2 separate regions of the Homo sapiens genome follow, and region 2 is linked to region 1. Evidence: fine-mapped expression QTL. Tissue or cell type: whole blood. Region 1 holds a variant in brackets; the other region holds the start of a gene. All regions are shown on one strand. Distances are from middle to middle.

The links. PIP is the estimated chance that this variant, and not a neighbour inherited with it, causes the effect.
Region 2: it holds the start of TNNT1, and the variant in region 1 is fine-mapped to the expression of TNNT1 in whole blood (INTERVAL, PIP above 0.99).

Annotation. Positions count from the first base shown.
Region 1 is chr19:55,115,978-55,124,237 of GRCh38, reverse strand. It overlaps PPP1R12C (protein phosphatase 1 regulatory subunit 12C), which reads left to right and starts at 6,601. Exons shown (of 22, transcript NM_017607.4): 1 at 6,601-7,015. The coding sequence starts at 6,695. It overlaps MIR7975 (microRNA 7975), which reads left to right and starts at 946; the gene lies at 946-1,013. RefSeq lists enhancers at 3,218-3,307, 6,246-6,525, 7,486-7,565, 7,966-8,015, 7,370-8,205 and silencers at 6,586-6,665, 6,856-6,935, 6,956-7,055. The variant A/CAA (reference allele first, on the strand shown) is at 4,847.
Region 2 is chr19:55,145,681-55,153,680 of GRCh38, reverse strand. TNNT1 (troponin T1, slow skeletal type) reads left to right here and starts at 4,475. Exons shown (of 14, transcript NM_003283.6): 1 at 4,475-4,520; 2 at 6,513-6,555; 3 at 6,660-6,673; 4 at 6,974-7,000; 5 at 7,215-7,247. The coding sequence starts at 6,524. It overlaps TNNI3 (troponin I3, cardiac type), which reads left to right. Exons shown (of 8, transcript NM_000363.5): 8 at 1,764-1,914. The coding sequence ends at 1,847.

The DNA of each region.
Region 1 (8,260 bases):
GAATTGGAGCCTGATTCAGCCTGGTGGGGAGCGACCTGAGGAGGAGCAGCCTGGGGAAGAGGGGAGAGGTCAGATGGGTCGGTAGAAAAGGAAGATTGAAAAGACTCAGTGACGCTTGGGGTTGAGACTGAGGGGACAGGCAGGAGGGAAAGAAGGAGGATTTGGGACAAGTCGCATTAGGAACAGAGACTAGGGAGGGACCAATGTGTAAAAGAATGCCTGGATATCAGGTACCTCAGACCTTTGGCCCATTTTACGACAAGAATTATCTAGATCTTGTAGGATGGAAAAATCAAAATTGCCGTTTTCTGGCTATTTAGAACCATTGTCGAGTTTGTATTGGGGTTAAGCAGCATTGCAGAAGAAAATAAGGTGTTTAGGTTTTAGGTCAGGTGTGAGTTGAAGAGGTTTTAAGTTCTTGAGAACACAGGCTAAGGGAGAAGGAGGGTCGGACGGTGGAAGGTTGCCTATAGTGAAGGAGGCAAGCCCAGAGAAAAGAGAGAGTAGAGACATGGAGAGAAGGGGTGGGGGGTGCTTGCCCCCCAGGAAAGTGGTGCTTGCCACTAAGGGTGAAGGATCAAGGCAAGCGTCCCCGTGGTGATCAGACACCTCTGAAACGTGGGTGAATAATCAAGCAGGCGTCCCCGCAGTGATTAAACACCAAGGGAAGACTGTCTTCCCGAGTCCGTGACCAGCGCTGGGGTTTTGGGTTCACGTATAAAACACGTCTCCTCTGTCTCTACCAGAAAAGGAAAGGAACTGAAATTAAGAGAAGGGAGAGACTGAAGGGTGGCGCCAAGATTCAAAGGAGAAAGAGGTTGAGGGATAGTGAGAGAGGTTGTAGAAGAGAGTAAAAAGAGACTGCTTACCCAATTTAAAATTGGTGAAATATTCCTTGGACTGGTTGGTCTGAGGACCCGAGGTCATAGGTGGATCCTTCTCACGGTGCAAAGAGCAGGAGGACAGGGGATTTATCTCCCAAGGGAGGTCCCCTGATCCTAGTCACGGCACCAAATGTCACGCACGTCCGTGTGAAGAGACCACCAAACAGGCTTTGTGTGAGCAAAAAGGCTATTTATTTCACCTGGGTGCAGGTGGGCTGAGTCCGAAAACAGAGTCAGCAAAGGTGGGATTATCATTAGTTCTTATAGGTTTGGGATGGGCGTACAAAGTACATTCTCAAGGGCAGGGAGAATATTACAAAGTACCTTCTTAAAGGCGGGGGAGAATATTACAAAGTACCTTCTTAAGGACCAGGCAGAATATATCGTATCAGTTAGGGTGGGGCGGGAACAAATCACAATGGTAGAATGTCATCAGGTAAGACTATTTTCGCTTCTTTTTTGGATCTTCAGTTGCTTCAGGCCATCTTCATGTATATGTGCAGGCCCACAGGGGATATGATGGCTTAGCTTGGGCTCGGAGGCCCGACACTGGGATATGTAACCATTATTCTAGATGGCTATGCTAAACCCAGCATAATCAGAGGTTCCATTTTGTTGAGAAAGAAGGGGACAACGAATATTGGGCAACAATTTGTCATCTCTGCCACTGAAACCACTGCTTCTCTGTCCACTACATTTTATCAAAGGCAGAGTGTCTTGCAATCAGCTTGACTTGCAAGAGGCTCAAAGGCCTCTTGGAATGCCTTGCATCAGTTTGCTTTTGTGGCATAAAAAGTTACCCCAGGTGGGCGCAGTGGCTCACCCCTGCCTGTAATCCCAGCACTTTGGGAGGCTGAGGCGGGTGGATCACTTGAGGCCAGGAGTTCAAGACCAGCCTGGTCAGCATAGTGAAACCCCATCTCTACTGAAAACACACAAAAAGTAGCCAGGCATGGTGGCTGGTGCCTGTAATTCCAGTTACTTAGGAGGCTGAGGCAGGAGAATCACTTGACCCTCAGAGGTGGAGGTTGCAGTGAGCCGAGGTCATGCCACTGCATTCCAGCCTGGATGACAGAGTGGGACTTGGTCTCAAAAAAAAAAAGCAAAGAAAAAAGAAAAAAGTTACCCCAAATATTAGTGGCTTGAGTCAACAGTCATCTATTTAACTTATGGTTTGAGGGCTGGGCGCGGTGGCTCATGCCTGTAATCCCAGCACTTTGGGAGGCCAAGGCGGGCGGATCATGAGGTCAGGAGATTGAGACCATCCTGGCTAACACAGTGAAACCCCATCTCTACTAAAAATACAAAAAAATTAGCCAGGTGTGGTGGCAGGCGTCTGTAGTCCCAGCTACTCGGGAGGCTGAGGCAGGAGAATGGCGTGAACCCAGGAGGTGGAACTTGCAGTGAGGGGAGATCGCGCCACTGCACTCCAGCCTGGGAGACAGAGCGAGACTCCGTCTCAAAAAAAAAAAAAAAAATTATAGTTTGAGAGTTGGCAAATTGGGCTGGGCTCCGCTGGGAGTTCTTGTCTGGCTGATCTTGGCTGGACTTGCTCATGCATCTGCAGTCTCCTGGTGAATCAACAGGGGCTGGCTGTGGTCATCCCACTAGTGCCTCTTCATGTTCCCGCAGCTGGACCCAGATCCCTCCTGATTATAATGGCAGTGCTAAACTAACAGTGTCATTGAGGAGTTATGTTTGGCTGATAGTAAGAGACAGCTCCCCAAATAACAATAGTTTTGGTGAATTGGAGGTTTGTTTTCTCATATGTAACCTAAAAGACAAGAGGTAGGCAGTCCAGGGAAGGAAAGGCAGATCCCAACTGCCATCAGGAACTGAGGCTTCTAAGGCCAGGTGCAGTGGCTCATGCCTGTAATCCCAGCACTTTGGGAGGCCAAGGCGGGCAGATCATGAGGTCAGGAGTTTGAGACTATCCTGGCCAACATGGTGAAACCCCGTCTCTACTAAAAATACAAGAATTAGCCAGGCGTGGTGGCGTGCACCTGTAGTCCCAAGAGAATCGCTTGAACCCAAGAGGTGGAGGTTGCAGTGAGCTGAGATCATGCCGCTGCACTCCAGCCTGGGTGACAGAGCGAGACTCCATCTCAAAAAAAAAAAAAAAAAAAAGAAATTCCAGTTCTGGATTTGACAGTCCTCAGATTGAACCTTGTCTTGGCCAATTTCTAGCTCTGTGACTGGGGCTAGTCTCTTAGTCTCTGCCTCCTGGAGTTGATGAGATGATGTACATAAAATATCTGATAGGCATGTGATGTTGGCTGTGAGCATCTTCATATGCCACTCAAGAACATCATCTTTTGCTCTTGTCTTCCTGTGGTAAAGGTTTTGTTTTCACTTCTAGGGTCTGCTCTTTGCTCTCAATGGTAACAGTGGAATGTTGGTGCTTAACCTTGGAACTGCAGGCCCTCCTCACTGGTGTAAATAACCTCAGAAAGATAAGAAGAAAATGTTCCCACTTCTTCTGTAACAGCAGAAAAATAGATATTAGTCTGCACCATAAAGATGGTTCAGATAAGCAGGTGAAGTTAGAACATCCACAAAAGTATAAAATTGACTCTTCTGTCCTGTGTGGAGAGGGGTAAGAGTATTATAAGCCCATTCTGATTTCTGTTATTTTACTCTTTTTTGATTGCGCCAGTGCAATCCAGCCTGGGCGATGACAAGAGTGAAACTCCATCTCAAAACAAACAAACAAACAAACAAAAACAAACCATAAACACAAACTCATAAACAACATACATCCAGCCACAGACATGATTGCAAATACACACAATTATACATAAAGGCACAGAATACATACAGAACCAGAGCTACACGGTAACACCCTGAAGACCGACTTCTTGTTTTCCTGGGGGAAGGAGGTTGGTGTGTAAGTATGTGGAAAGTGTGGGGTTCAGGGACCACACCTAAGAGCCACCAGAACTATCCCTTTCTATAGAAACAGGCTTCGTGGCGGATGAAGACCCCATCTTGGGGTTCCACCAGATATTCCTACTAAAGAACATCAGCTGGGTGTGGTGGCTCATGCCTGTAATCCCAGCACTTTGGGAAGCTGAGGCGGGTGGATCACTTGAGGTCAGGAGATCGAGACCAGCCTGGCCAACATGGTGAAACCTTGTCTCTACTAAAAATACAAAAATTAGCCAGGCGTGGAGCACGCCTGTAATCCCAGCTACTTGGGAGGCTGAGGTAGGAGAATCACTTGAACCTGGGAGGCGGAGGTTGCAGTGAGCCGAGATCACATCACTGCACTCCAGCCTGGGCGACACAGTGAGACTCCGTCTCAAAAACAAAACAAAACCAAACAAAACAAAACATCAGCGATGCAATGATGCTTGGGTTTGCACCAATGATATGCAGGCTTGCTCTGCACAACTTCAGCTGACCTCCTCTCCACCGGGCCCTCACGCTGCCTCCTCTTCCCTCCTCTTTCCAGAACTATTGCCACTCCTCCAGATATGATGCACAAATGAGCAGGGTCGCAGTGGGAGTGGGCGCAGTGCGCTGATGCCACGGAGGTGTTGTGCATGACGTCTGGACACTAGACTAGCTGCATGTAATGGGAAAAGTTTGTGTTGTACCAGCGCATGCCTTGGAAAGACTTAAGTAATGCAAAAGGTTGTCCTTTAAAAAAAAAAAAAATCTGGCCGGTCGCGGCGGCTCACGCCTGTAATCCCAGCATTTTGGGAGGCCGAGGCAGTCGGATCACGAGGTCAGGAATTCGAGACCAGCCTGGCCAACATGGTGAAACCCCGTCTCTACTAAAAAACAAAAATTAGCCGGGCGTGGTGGAGCACGCCTGTAGTCCCAGCTACTCAGGAGGCTGAGGCAGGAGAATCGCTTGAACCCGGGAGGCAGAGCTTGCAGTGAGCCGACATCGCGCCACTGCACTCCAGCCTGGGCGACAGAGCAAGCCTCCGTCTCAAAAACAACAACAACAACAA[A/CAA]AAAAAACAAAACTACTGACAAGTTGCTCTACTTAACCCAAAGAAAGTGAAGGAGAAAGCGGCTGCCTCACCGCCTAGACATTGAGTCGCCGGATGTTTCAATGCCTCATGATACAATAAAACCACAAAAATTTTCGTAACAGCAGCAGCAACAACAACAACAAAAGAGAAAGAGAGAGGGAAAGAAACAGGCCTCGTGGGATGCGCAGTTTACGTCTCCGCGCAAACCCAAGGACTTCAGAGTGGGTGGGAAACTCCCACAGCGCTTGGGAAACAGTCTGTAGTCTCTGTCCCGATTTTGGCCCTTTTCTGTATGATTTTTATGGGACTCTTCCTGTCACAAAGTGCCAGCCACCTTCCCAATCTTGAGTTGGGCGCGGGATCCGTAAGGTGAAGATCAAGGTGTGCTCATCGCTTGGGCCCGCTGAAAGGTGATTCGCCCCCCACCTGCTGGAACTCCTTGCCCGGGACCACCAATCCCAGCATGCCTTGAGAGCGCGCGAGGGCCTGGGCGGTTCCCAGGAGGTCCGGGTGGGCGCAGGAGAAGCGCGGGCCAGTGAAAGCTCTGAGAGCCCTGTCCCTGTGGACACTGTGTCTTGGGTTCCTTTACTCGGTGTGGCTCAGGGATTACCATTAGGGAGTGGAGTGTGGATTTCTCTTGCCCCGAGCCCTAAATGCCTTGGGGCCCTGCCTTGCACCCCACTGTGCTTTTAGGGGTGTGGCCCTGTGGGCTACATTTCCCAGCGTGCCCTAGGATCGTGGTCCTGACCTTTTCACCGCAAATTTCATTTCCCAGCATGCCCTGCGAGGTCACCCAGGGAAGCTTGGAAGTGGACTGTCTTTCATGGCTTCTAGGTTGCGGACTCAGTTTCCCATGGTGCCCTGGTGAACCCATTCATTCATTCATTCCAAAAATATTTGCGATCAGGTTCTCTCAGGTTCTGTTCTAAGAACCGAGGACAAGTAGTGCACAGAAGACAAAAGATCCCGCTCTCGTGGAGCTTATTTCTAGTTAAGGGGTCAGGAAAAAAACCAAAATAAATAAAACCCAGCTGGGCATGGTGGCTTACGCTCGTCATCCCAGCAGGATTACAGGCCGAGGCGGGCGGATCATGAGGTCAAGAGATCAAGACCATCATGGCCAACATGGTGAAATCCCGTCTCTACTAAAAATATAAAAATTAGCAGGGCGGGGTGGCGCGCGCCTGTTATCCCAGCTACTCTGGGGACTGAGCCAGAATTGCTTGAACCTGGGAAGCGGAGGTTGCAGCGAGCCGATATCGCGCCACTGAACTCCAGCGTGGCGACAGAGCGAGACTCCGTCTCAAAACAAAGAAAACAAAATAAAACAACAATAACAAAACAACTCTGCCTCTCCCCGCACTCCCTCCCACGCGGCTGTCCAGTCGAATTCCTAACTGCCCCGGGGCAGTCTGCTATTCATCCCCTTTACCCGGTGCTACACACTTCCTAGTATGCCGTGGGGCACCCCTCCGGCCTGTAGACTCCATTTCCCAGCATTCCCCGGAGGAGGCCCTCATCTGGCGATTTCCACTGGGCGCCTCGGAGCTGCGGACTTCCCAGTGTGCATCGGGGCACAGCGACTCCTGGAAGTGGCCAAGGGCCACTTCTGCTAATGGACTCCATTTCCCAGCGCTCCCCGCGACCTGCCCAGCACACCCTGGGGCAGCGCCGTGACGTCAGCACGCCGGGCGGGGACCGGGAGATCCTTGGGGCGGTGGGGGGCCAGCGGCAGTTCCCGGCGGCCCCCGGGGCGGGCGGGCGGGCGGGTGGTGGCGGCGGTTGGGGCTCGGCGCTCGCTCGCTCGCTGGGCGGGCGGGCGGTGCGATGTCCGGAGAGGATGGCCCGGCGGCTGGCCCGGGGGCGGCGGCGGCGGCTGCCCGGGAGCGGCGACGGGAGCAGCTGCGGCAGTGGGGGGCGCGGGCGGGCGCCGAGCCTGGCCCCGGAGAGCGCCGCGCCCGCACCGTCCGCTTCGAGCGCGCCGCCGAGTTCCTGGCGGCCTGTGCGGGCGGCGACCTGGACGAGGCGCGTCTGATGCTGCGCGCCGCCGACCCTGGCCCCGGCGCCGAGCTCGACCCCGCCGCGCCGCCGCCCGCCCGCGCCGTGCTGGACTCCACCAACGCCGACGGTATCAGCGCCCTGCACCAGGTCAGCGCCCCCCGCCCGGCGTCTCCCGGGGCCAGGTCCACCCTCTGCTGCGCCACCTGGGGCATCCTCCTTCCCCGTTGCCAGTCTCGATCCGCCCCGTCGTTCCTGGCCCTGGGCTTTGCCACCCTATGCTGACACCCCGTCCCAGTCCCCCTTACCATTCCCCTTCGACCACCCCACTTCCGAATTGGAGCCGCTTCAACTGGCCCTGGGCTTAGCCACTCTGTGCTGACCACTCTGCCCCAGGCCTCCTTACCATTCCCCTTCGACCTACTCTCTTCCGCATTGGAGTCGCTTTAACTGGCCCTGGCTTTGGCAGCCTGTGCTGACCCATGCAGTCCTCCTTACCATCCCTCCCTCGACTTCCCCTCTTCCGATGTTGAGCCCCTCCAGCCGGTCCTGGACTTTGTCTCCTTCCCTGCCCTGCCCTCTCCTGAACCTGAGCCAGCTCCCATAGCTCAGTCTGGTCTATCTGCCTGGCCCTGGCCATTGTCACTTTGCGCTGCCCTCCTCTCGCCCCCGAGTGCCCTTGCTGTGCCGCCGGAACTCTGCCCTCTAACGCTGCCGTCTCTCTCCTGAGTCCGGACCACTTTGAGCTCTACTGGCTTCTGCGCCGCCTCTGGCCCACTGTTTCCCCTTCCCAGGCAGGTCCTGCTTTCTCTGACCTGCATTCTCTCCCCTGGGCCTGTGCCGCTTTCTGTCTGCAGCTTGTGGCCTGGGTCACCTCTACGGCTGGCCCAGATCCTTCCCTGCCGCCTCCTTCAGGTTCCGTCTTCCTCCACTCCCTCTTCCCCTTGCTCTCTGCTGTGTTGCTGCCCAAGGATGCTCTTTCCGGAGCACTTCCTTCTCGGCGCTGCACCACGTGATGTCCTCTGAGCGGATCCTCCCCGTGTCTGGGTCCTCTCCGGGCATCTCTCCTCCCTCACCCAACCCCATGCCGTCTTCACTCGCTGGGTTCCCTTTTCCTTCTCCTTCTGGGGCCTGTGCCATCTCTCGTTTCTTAGGATGGCCTTCTCCGACGGATGTCTCCCTTGCGTCCCGCCTCCCCTTCTTGTAGGCCTGCATCATCACCGTTTTTCTGGACAACCCCAAAGTACCCCGTCTCCCTGGCTTTAGCCACCTCTCCATCCTCTTGCTTTCTTTGCCTGGACACCCCGTTCTCCTGTGGATTCGGGTCACCTCTCACTCCTTTCATTTGGGCAGCTCCCCTACCCCCCTTACCTCTCTAGTCTGTGCTAGCTCTTC
Region 2 (8,000 bases), 30 kb before region 1:
GCTGGAGTGCAGTGACACCATCTCGGCTCACTGCAACCTCTGCCTCCCAGGATCAAGTGATTCTCATGCCTCAGCCTCCCGAGTAGCTGGGACTACAGGTGCACACCACCATGTTGTTGTTTTAATTTCTACAAATTTCTTTTTTAAATTAGCCAGTCACGGTGGTGGCATGCAGCTTCTCAGGAGGCTGAGGCAGGAAAATCGCTTGAGCCCATGAGATCGAGGGTGCAGTGAGCTATGACTGCACCACTGCACTCCAGCCTGGGCAATACAGTGAGACCCTATCTTAAAGAAGAAGACAGGAAAGATAGGAGTGGATGCCTGAAACCATGGATTGTACTGAACCCTATATGTAATTTTTTTTCCTATACACACATACATACCTATGATAAAGTTTCATTTCTAAATTAGACACAGTAAGAGATTAACAATAAATAACAACAAAAGAAGGTTGGGCGTGGTGGCTCATGCCTGTAATCTCAACACTTTGGGATGCTAAGGCAGGCAGATTGCTTGAGCTCTGGAGTTCGAGACCAGCCTGGGCAACATGGCGAGACCATGTCTCTATAAAAAATACCAAAGTTACCGGGTGTGGTGGCTCGTGCCTGTAATCCCAGCGCTTTGGGAGGCCAAGGCGGGCGGATCATGAGGTCAGGAGTTTGAGACCAGCCTGGCCAACACAGTGAAACCCCACCTGTAGTAAAAATACAAACATTTGCTGGGCGTGGTCGTGGGTGCCTGTAATCCCAGCTACTTGTGAAGCTGAGGCAGGAGAATTGCTTGAACCCGGGAGGCAGAGGTTGCAGTGAGCCGAGATCTCACCACTGCACTCCAGCCCAGGCAACACTGGGAGACTCCATCTCAAAACAAAACAAAACAGAACAAAAGTTAGCTGGGCATGGTGGCACACACCTGTGGTCCCAGCTCCTCAGGAGTCTGAGGTGAGAGGATGGCTTGAGCCCAGGAAGTTGAGGCTGCAGTGAGCCGAGATTGCACGACTGCACTCCAGCTTGGATGAGGCAGCCAGACCCTGTCTCAAATAATAATAATAATAAAATAGAACAATTATAACAGATTGTAATAAAACTCATGAATGTGGTCTCTTTCTCAAAATATCTTATAGCACTGTAATCACCCTTCTTTTCCTTGTGATGTAAAATGACAGTGCCTATGTGCTGAGATGAGGTGAGGTGGATGACATAGGCATTATGACCTGGCGTTAGGCTACTATTGACCTGAGAATCCATCAAACTTATGAATTGTTTATTTCTGGAATTTTCCATTTAATATTTTTGGGCCATGGTTTACCTCAGGTAACTGAAACCACACAAAGTAAAATTGCAGAAAAGGAGGGACTACTATAATAAGAAGAGAAGGAAGGAGACAGGAAGGGCATAAGGCAGACAGGAAGTGGAGGGGAAAGATAGGAAGTGCAGGAAGGAGACAGGAAGTGGAGGGGAAAGACAGGAAGTGCATGAGGGAGACAGGAAGTGGATGGGGAAAGACAGAAAGTACATGAGGGAGACAGGAAGTGCTGGGGAAAGACAGGAAGTGCATGAGGGGGACAGGAAGTGCATGAGGGAGACAGGAAGTGCATGGGGAAAATTGGCAGGGATTATCTTGAAAAGACAGGAAGTGCTCCAGAACTAGATACTTAGGCATCCAGGGTAGAGTGGCCCCACAGGCTGGAGGGAAGACAGGGATTCTTGAGAGACTGGAGACCAAGAAGAGACCCTAACCTCTGACTCATCGCCATCCTCCAGGAAAACCGGGAGGTGGGAGACTGGCGCAAGAACATCGATGCACTGAGTGGAATGGAGGGCCGCAAGAAAAAGTTTGAGAGCTGAGCCTTCCTGCCTACTGCCCCTGCCCTGAGGAGGGCCCTGAGGAATAAAGCTTCTCTCTGAGCTGAAAGTGACTCCATGTCTATTACCCAGGGCTTAGGCAGGAGACAGATGGGAAGACTGCAGGTGGGGCTCCCCCAAAGCCACACAGCAGGTTGGGGACCAGATGGGTCTCCCATGTGAAGCACTCTTGGCTGTGTTATTGAAAAGAATCCCGGGGTTCATGAATTTGGAGAGCGGAGCTTTGTTTCTTAAGAAGCGGATCACAACCTGAAGACCAGAAGCATGGCTTCTTGCCAAAAAACAAAAGCAGGCACTTTAAGGGAGGGAAGGGCAAGGCAGGAATTTATGCTGAGTGGGTTAGCTAAGTGCACGTATTCAACTGGTTATAGAAGGAGCTATGAATATTCATGGACAGGTGGACACATGGACACACGCATGTGTGACAAGCAAACACTCATTTTTTTTTTTTTTTGAGACGGAGTCTTGCTCTGTCACCCAGGCTGGAGTGCAGTGGCACGATCTCAGCTCACTGCAACCTCTGCGTCCTGGGTTCAAGCCATTCTCCTGCCTCAGCCTCTCCAGTAGCTGGGATTACAGGCATGCACCACCACGCCCAGCTAATTTTTGTGTTTTTCGTAGAGACGGGGTTTCACCATGTTGGCCAGGCTGGTCTCGATTTCCTGACCTCGTGATCCGCCCTCCTTGGCCTCCCAAAGTGCTGGGATTACAGGCGTGAGCCACCGCGACTGGCCGCAAACACATTTTACATGCATCCCACCTTCACTTGGTGGTGGAGGCTTAACATTTAAGTGCATTCCATTGAATGCATTCGTATCGAAACACGAAGCAGGGATATGAAGACACTCAGTGCACAGCCTCTGTCAACAGCCAGAACCAGTCCGTGGTCTGCGGCATCTTATCAGGAGAAAGTTACTGAAATCAGTCTCTTGTTCAACTAATGCTGTAGTTATGCCTTGTGGAACAGGGGGTTCAGCTAGTCAGCATCTGGCAATGGATGGCTGCAATGGTTGTAATATTGCTTATCTTGAGGCCGGTGCTTGTTTAGCTGCTAGAAAAAGGAAAAGCCTTGTGGCAGTTGGAACATAGTCGATTATATAAGTGTAGGGATGCGTGGCTTAACCCTTGCCTGGCATGGCCTTAGGTCTTGTTTATAATTTGGTATCTTATTGCCACAAACAGTTCATTCCATCAGTCTTCTGATCTCTATTGTCACAGCTCCTCTGGCCCATGTGGAGTGCACAGAGATGCCAAGACTAAAGGTCAAAGAGAGAGAGACACAGAGAAACAGACAGGCAGAGAGACATGACCGACAACAGAGAGACTGAGTTGGGAGTAGAGAGAGTAGGAGCCAGGCAAAGACCCAAAGAGAGAGGGAGAAAATACCACAAGATGCATAGAAGGAAGTGCAAAGAAAGGAGAAAAGAGAGACAGAGATATACTCACAGCAAGGTGCAGAGACATGGAGACCCTATAAGAGATGGAAATGGAGAGCCACAGAGGGGGAACTGCGGGCACTAAGAGAGACATGGAGAGAACTAGAAAGATAGAGACGTGAACACAGACACAGAGACCCAGAGCCAAAAAGAGACAGAAATGGGGTCATAGGTGGACAGAAATGCACAGAGAGACTGTGAGCCCCCACAGACACAAACGCTGAGAGGGGCAGACATGCAGAGACACCCACAGAAATGCAGAGACAAAACCACCCGGAGACACATGCCGAGAAACACACTGAGGGGCTCAGAAAGCGACAGATGCAGAGAGAGCCCAAGACAGACCCAGCAAGGGGCCCCGAGAAATGCACAGAAACACAAAGACCGAGACCACCAGAGACAGAGGTACGGAGAGGCGGGGAGGGTGAGGAAGCCTGCTCTCCAGGGCTGGCTTGAACCTAGAACTCAAGGTCATGGCTTGGCTGGGAAGCGGGAGGGGGATACCAAAAAAGATCAGCGTTAGATGGAGGTGGGGAGGGAGGGTAGGTTTCACCCTAATTGACACCCCACCCTCCCCCTCCCCCTCCCCACACCTGCTTCCCGGCTTTAGTGCCTGTTGTCACCAGGATGGAATCCTGGCGGCAGACAAAGGGGTGGGGGTGGGAGGAGGAGACAAAAAGATGGACAGAGACAGAGGAGGAGACTAAGAAGTAGAGACAGACACACAGAGACACACAGATGGAGAGCCACAGAGACAACAGAAATGGGGGTCCAGAAAGAGACCTAGATAGAAAGAGGGAACAGAGAGAAGAAAACAGGAAACATTCCTTATAGCCCATGTGTCATTAGTAGGTCCTCCAAGGACCTACTGTGTGCCGGGCATGGGGACGTCAAAGCACAGGGAGCTATAAGGGAGGTAGTTGGAGCACCACGGGAGCCTGGGGTGTGGGGTGGGAGCAGGGGCGGGGCTCCTGGGCCATGCAGATGGGGTTGGCATGGGGTTGGGGAGGGGCCCACGGAGGCTTCTGGACTCTGAGTGTGGAGCCAGGGGCAGCAGGGCTGTCTCTGAACTCCCAGGCTTGTGTTTGAGCAAAGGAATTCTCTCCCCCTCCCTCTCCCCTCGGGGCGGGCCCGAGCCTCCAGCTATAAACTCCCCGGAGCTTCAGTGCCCTCAGCAAGGCTCAGCCTCAAGATTCACAGCATCTCAGACACAGCCTAGGTAAGGGGCTCTGCGGAGCCCTGTGGTCTTCAAAAACCATGTCCTTGGGGGAGGGGGCAGGAGGCAGGTGGGGAAGATGTCGGGTGTGGAGAAATGGTGCAGAGGTAGGTGGGGCATACAACTGGAGGTCTGGGAACTTGAGAGGCTCAGACTTTAGGGGGACTCAGGATAGAGGGGAAAATACTAGGATTTGTGGGTTACACAAATCCTAACCCGGGGCTGCCAGGACTTGGATGTCCCAGAATAAAACCTCCTAGGATCTTGGGGTTCTGGGAATCTGGGGGAAATCTCAGCAGTCAGGGATATCTGGACTTGGAGGTCAAACAATCTGGGTGTCAGGATTTGGGGCCTCAGACTCTGAGGGTATCAGGAATTGGGGGGGTCTCAGAAGAAATTGGGGTTTTGGTAGTGGAGGGCTCGGAATCTGAGACATTATGATAGAAAGCATGAAAACTTAGAGTGCCATTATCTGGGGTATCATGAACTGGGCCTCCGAGTTTGGGTATCAAGATTTTGGGGGTCTCATATTCTTGAGGTTTCAGATTTTAGGAGGTCTCAAGACCTGGGGGTGGTCTTAGGATGTCCCGGCCCATATCTGGACTATCAAGAACTGGGATTTCAGAATCCAGAGCTGTGAGGACTTGCTGGCCTCAGAAACACGGGCATCATAAATCGGGGTCTCAGAATCTGTGGGTATTGGGATTTGGGGCTAGGCACCCTGTGGCCTAGGGTGTCTCAAAGACTTTGAGGTCTAAGAATGTAGGGGTCAGGGTGAGGTCTACGGACAGAAGGTGCCCTTTATGCCCCTGCCCCCTACGTGATGTATGGGAAGGTGAAAGGGGAGACAGGTGGGGAGGAAACCAGCCAGTGGGGTGGGGCGAGTGGGAGAGGGGATGCGGGTGACTAATTCTCCCAGAAGCCCCCCTTCCTCAAATCCCTTCTTAGGAAATGTCCTCGGTTTCACCATCTATGACATCCCCCCAAAATAGCTCCTGGGGGTGGGGCAGCTATTGTCTTCAGGCCACTGTCCCTTCTCAAATGCCTCTTCCTAATCCCAACTGGATCAGGTTCCCATGGACTTGTCATAAGACAAAAGAGGACAGCTGTGCTGAGGGGGCAGGGTCTGCAGCCTCCTGGCTGTGCCAGGACCACACCTACCAAGGTCTGTCCTCATGCATGCTTTAGGACAGCCGGCCCCCTCCCTCAGACCCAAGAGTCCAGACCTGAGCCCTCCTCCCTCAGACGCAGGAGTACAGGCCCCCAGCCCGCTCCTCCCTCAGACTCAGGAGTCTAGACTCCCAGCCTCTCCTCCCTTAGATCCAGGAGTCCAGGCCCCAGCTCCTCCTCCCTCAGACCCAGGAGGCCAGGCCCCCAGACCCTCCTCCCTCAGACCCAGGCGTCCAGGCCCGCGGCCCCTCCTCCCTCAGACCCAGGCGTCCAGGCCCCTGGCCCCTCCTCCCTCAGATCCAGGAGTCCAGACCCCAGCCCCTCCTCCCTCAGACCCAGGTGTCCAGGACAACCCATCTCAGTCTCAGGAGTCCACACCCACCCTCCCACACACCCCCCAGCCCCTCCTCCCTCAGACCCAGGAATCCGGCCCCCAGCCCCTCCTCCCTCAGATCCAGGAGTTCAGGACCCCAGTCCCTCCTCCCTCAGACCCAGAAGTCCAGGCCCCAGCCCCTCCTTCCTCAGACCCAGGAGTCCAGGCCCCAGCTCCTCCTCCCTCAGACCCAGGAGTCCAGACCCCAGCCCCTCCTCCCTCAGACCCAGGAGTCCAGGCCCCCAGCCCCTCCTTCCTCAGACCCAGGAGTCCAGGCCCCAGCTCCTCCTCTCTCACACCCAGGAGTCCAGACCCCAGCTCCTCCTCTCTCACACCCAGGAGTCCAGACCCAGGAGTCCAGGCCCCCAGCCCCTCCTCCCTCACACCCAGGAGTCTAGGTCGCCCCCTCCTTGGGGCCCCACCCCACTGGGCCTCTTCTCTCTGGTCCTTAGGCCGCACCAGGATGTCGGACACCGAGGAGCAGGAATATGAGGAGTGAGTGCTGCACTGGGAGGGGTTGGGGCGTGCAGTGGTGGAGAGGCTCTCCCACCCCAGGTCTAACTCTCCCCTCCCTCCTCTCTCCCCACACCCGTCCGCAGGGAGCAGCCGGAAGGTGAGTAGGGAGTGGGCCGGCCCTATGGGATGGGGACACGCCCAGGAGCTCTTGGGAGGGGAGGCGAGGAGTGTGGCACTTTGGCGGGGAAGGGGCGGCTCAGCCCTCGGGCCCTCGCCCGCCCTCTCCGGGTCTGGAGCGTCTCCTCGCGCCATCCCTGCACCGCCAGGGGGAACGTGCCCATCGCAGCCGAGGCCAGAGGGACCCCCGTCCAGCAGAGACTGGAACCCTGGTCTCTGGCCACCGCCCCCATCCCTCCCCCAGCTCCTAACGCCTTCTCTTCTGTGCCCCCATCTCCAGAGGAGGCTGCGGAGGAGGAGGAGGAAGGTGAGGTCCCGGACTCCGCAGGTCTGGAGCTGGGGGGTGGGGGGGCGGGGACGCTGGGCCCGGGAGGAGGGGGCGGGATGGGGCTCCCGACGGCCTCGGCTCCCGGTCCTCTAACAGCCTCTCACGTCTCTTCCCTCTCTCCCCTCCCGCGCCCGGGCGTGGCCGCTCCCCCCTCGCTCCCCAAACCCTCGCTGCTCCTCCCTCCCCTCCCCAGCCCCCGAAGAGCCGGAGCCGGTGGCAGAGCCAGGTAACCGCGGCTGCTTCGCTTCCCGAGACCGATGTCGGGGGCCCGGGGGGACCCCCGATATCCTCGGGCCCCAACCTCCAAGACCACCCTTCCCTCCCTCCGCCCCCATAACCCGCCCCCAGGCCCGGTCCTTTAAGCCCCTGAGAGCTCCTGCGCCCTCTCGGGGCCGGGAAGGGAAATGGCCCCGCAGTGGCTTTAACCCTTTCCCTTCCTTCTTAAAGGGACCGACACCCAAGCCTTCTTCCCCAGTCTGGAGGAATCTTTACAGAAGGGTTGGATGTTTGCGGAGAAGCACCACCCCATCCCCCCTTATCTTCGCCTCCAACCTTGTCTGTTATTTTCTCCCCCATATACATTCAAAGGTTGGGGCTTGGAATTTAGGATTGCAGAGGAGGCGAGCGCTGGGAGTCAGGGTCTCCAAGGTCGGGCCGGGGGCGGGGGGGCGGTGGGGCGGTGGGCAGGGGGCGAGCTGGGGAGAGAGCGCTGGGGTCACTGAATGAAGACAGAGGTTGGGACCCCCTGCACTGCTGGGTCCTAATGGAGGAGAGCAGGAGCTCTGGGCATATAAATAGAGAAAGGTCTGGGGGTTTGCACTCCTGGGTGTGCAGACAGTGGGGGTGGGGGGTCCCCACACCAGTTCTGAATGTATATCTGATGCGTGTGACCCTCTTCCTCCTTTACAGCCACCCTGACTTTCCTTCCCTCTTTTCTTCTCCCCATCCCCCCTCCTCCAGAACTGGACTCCAGAGTCCT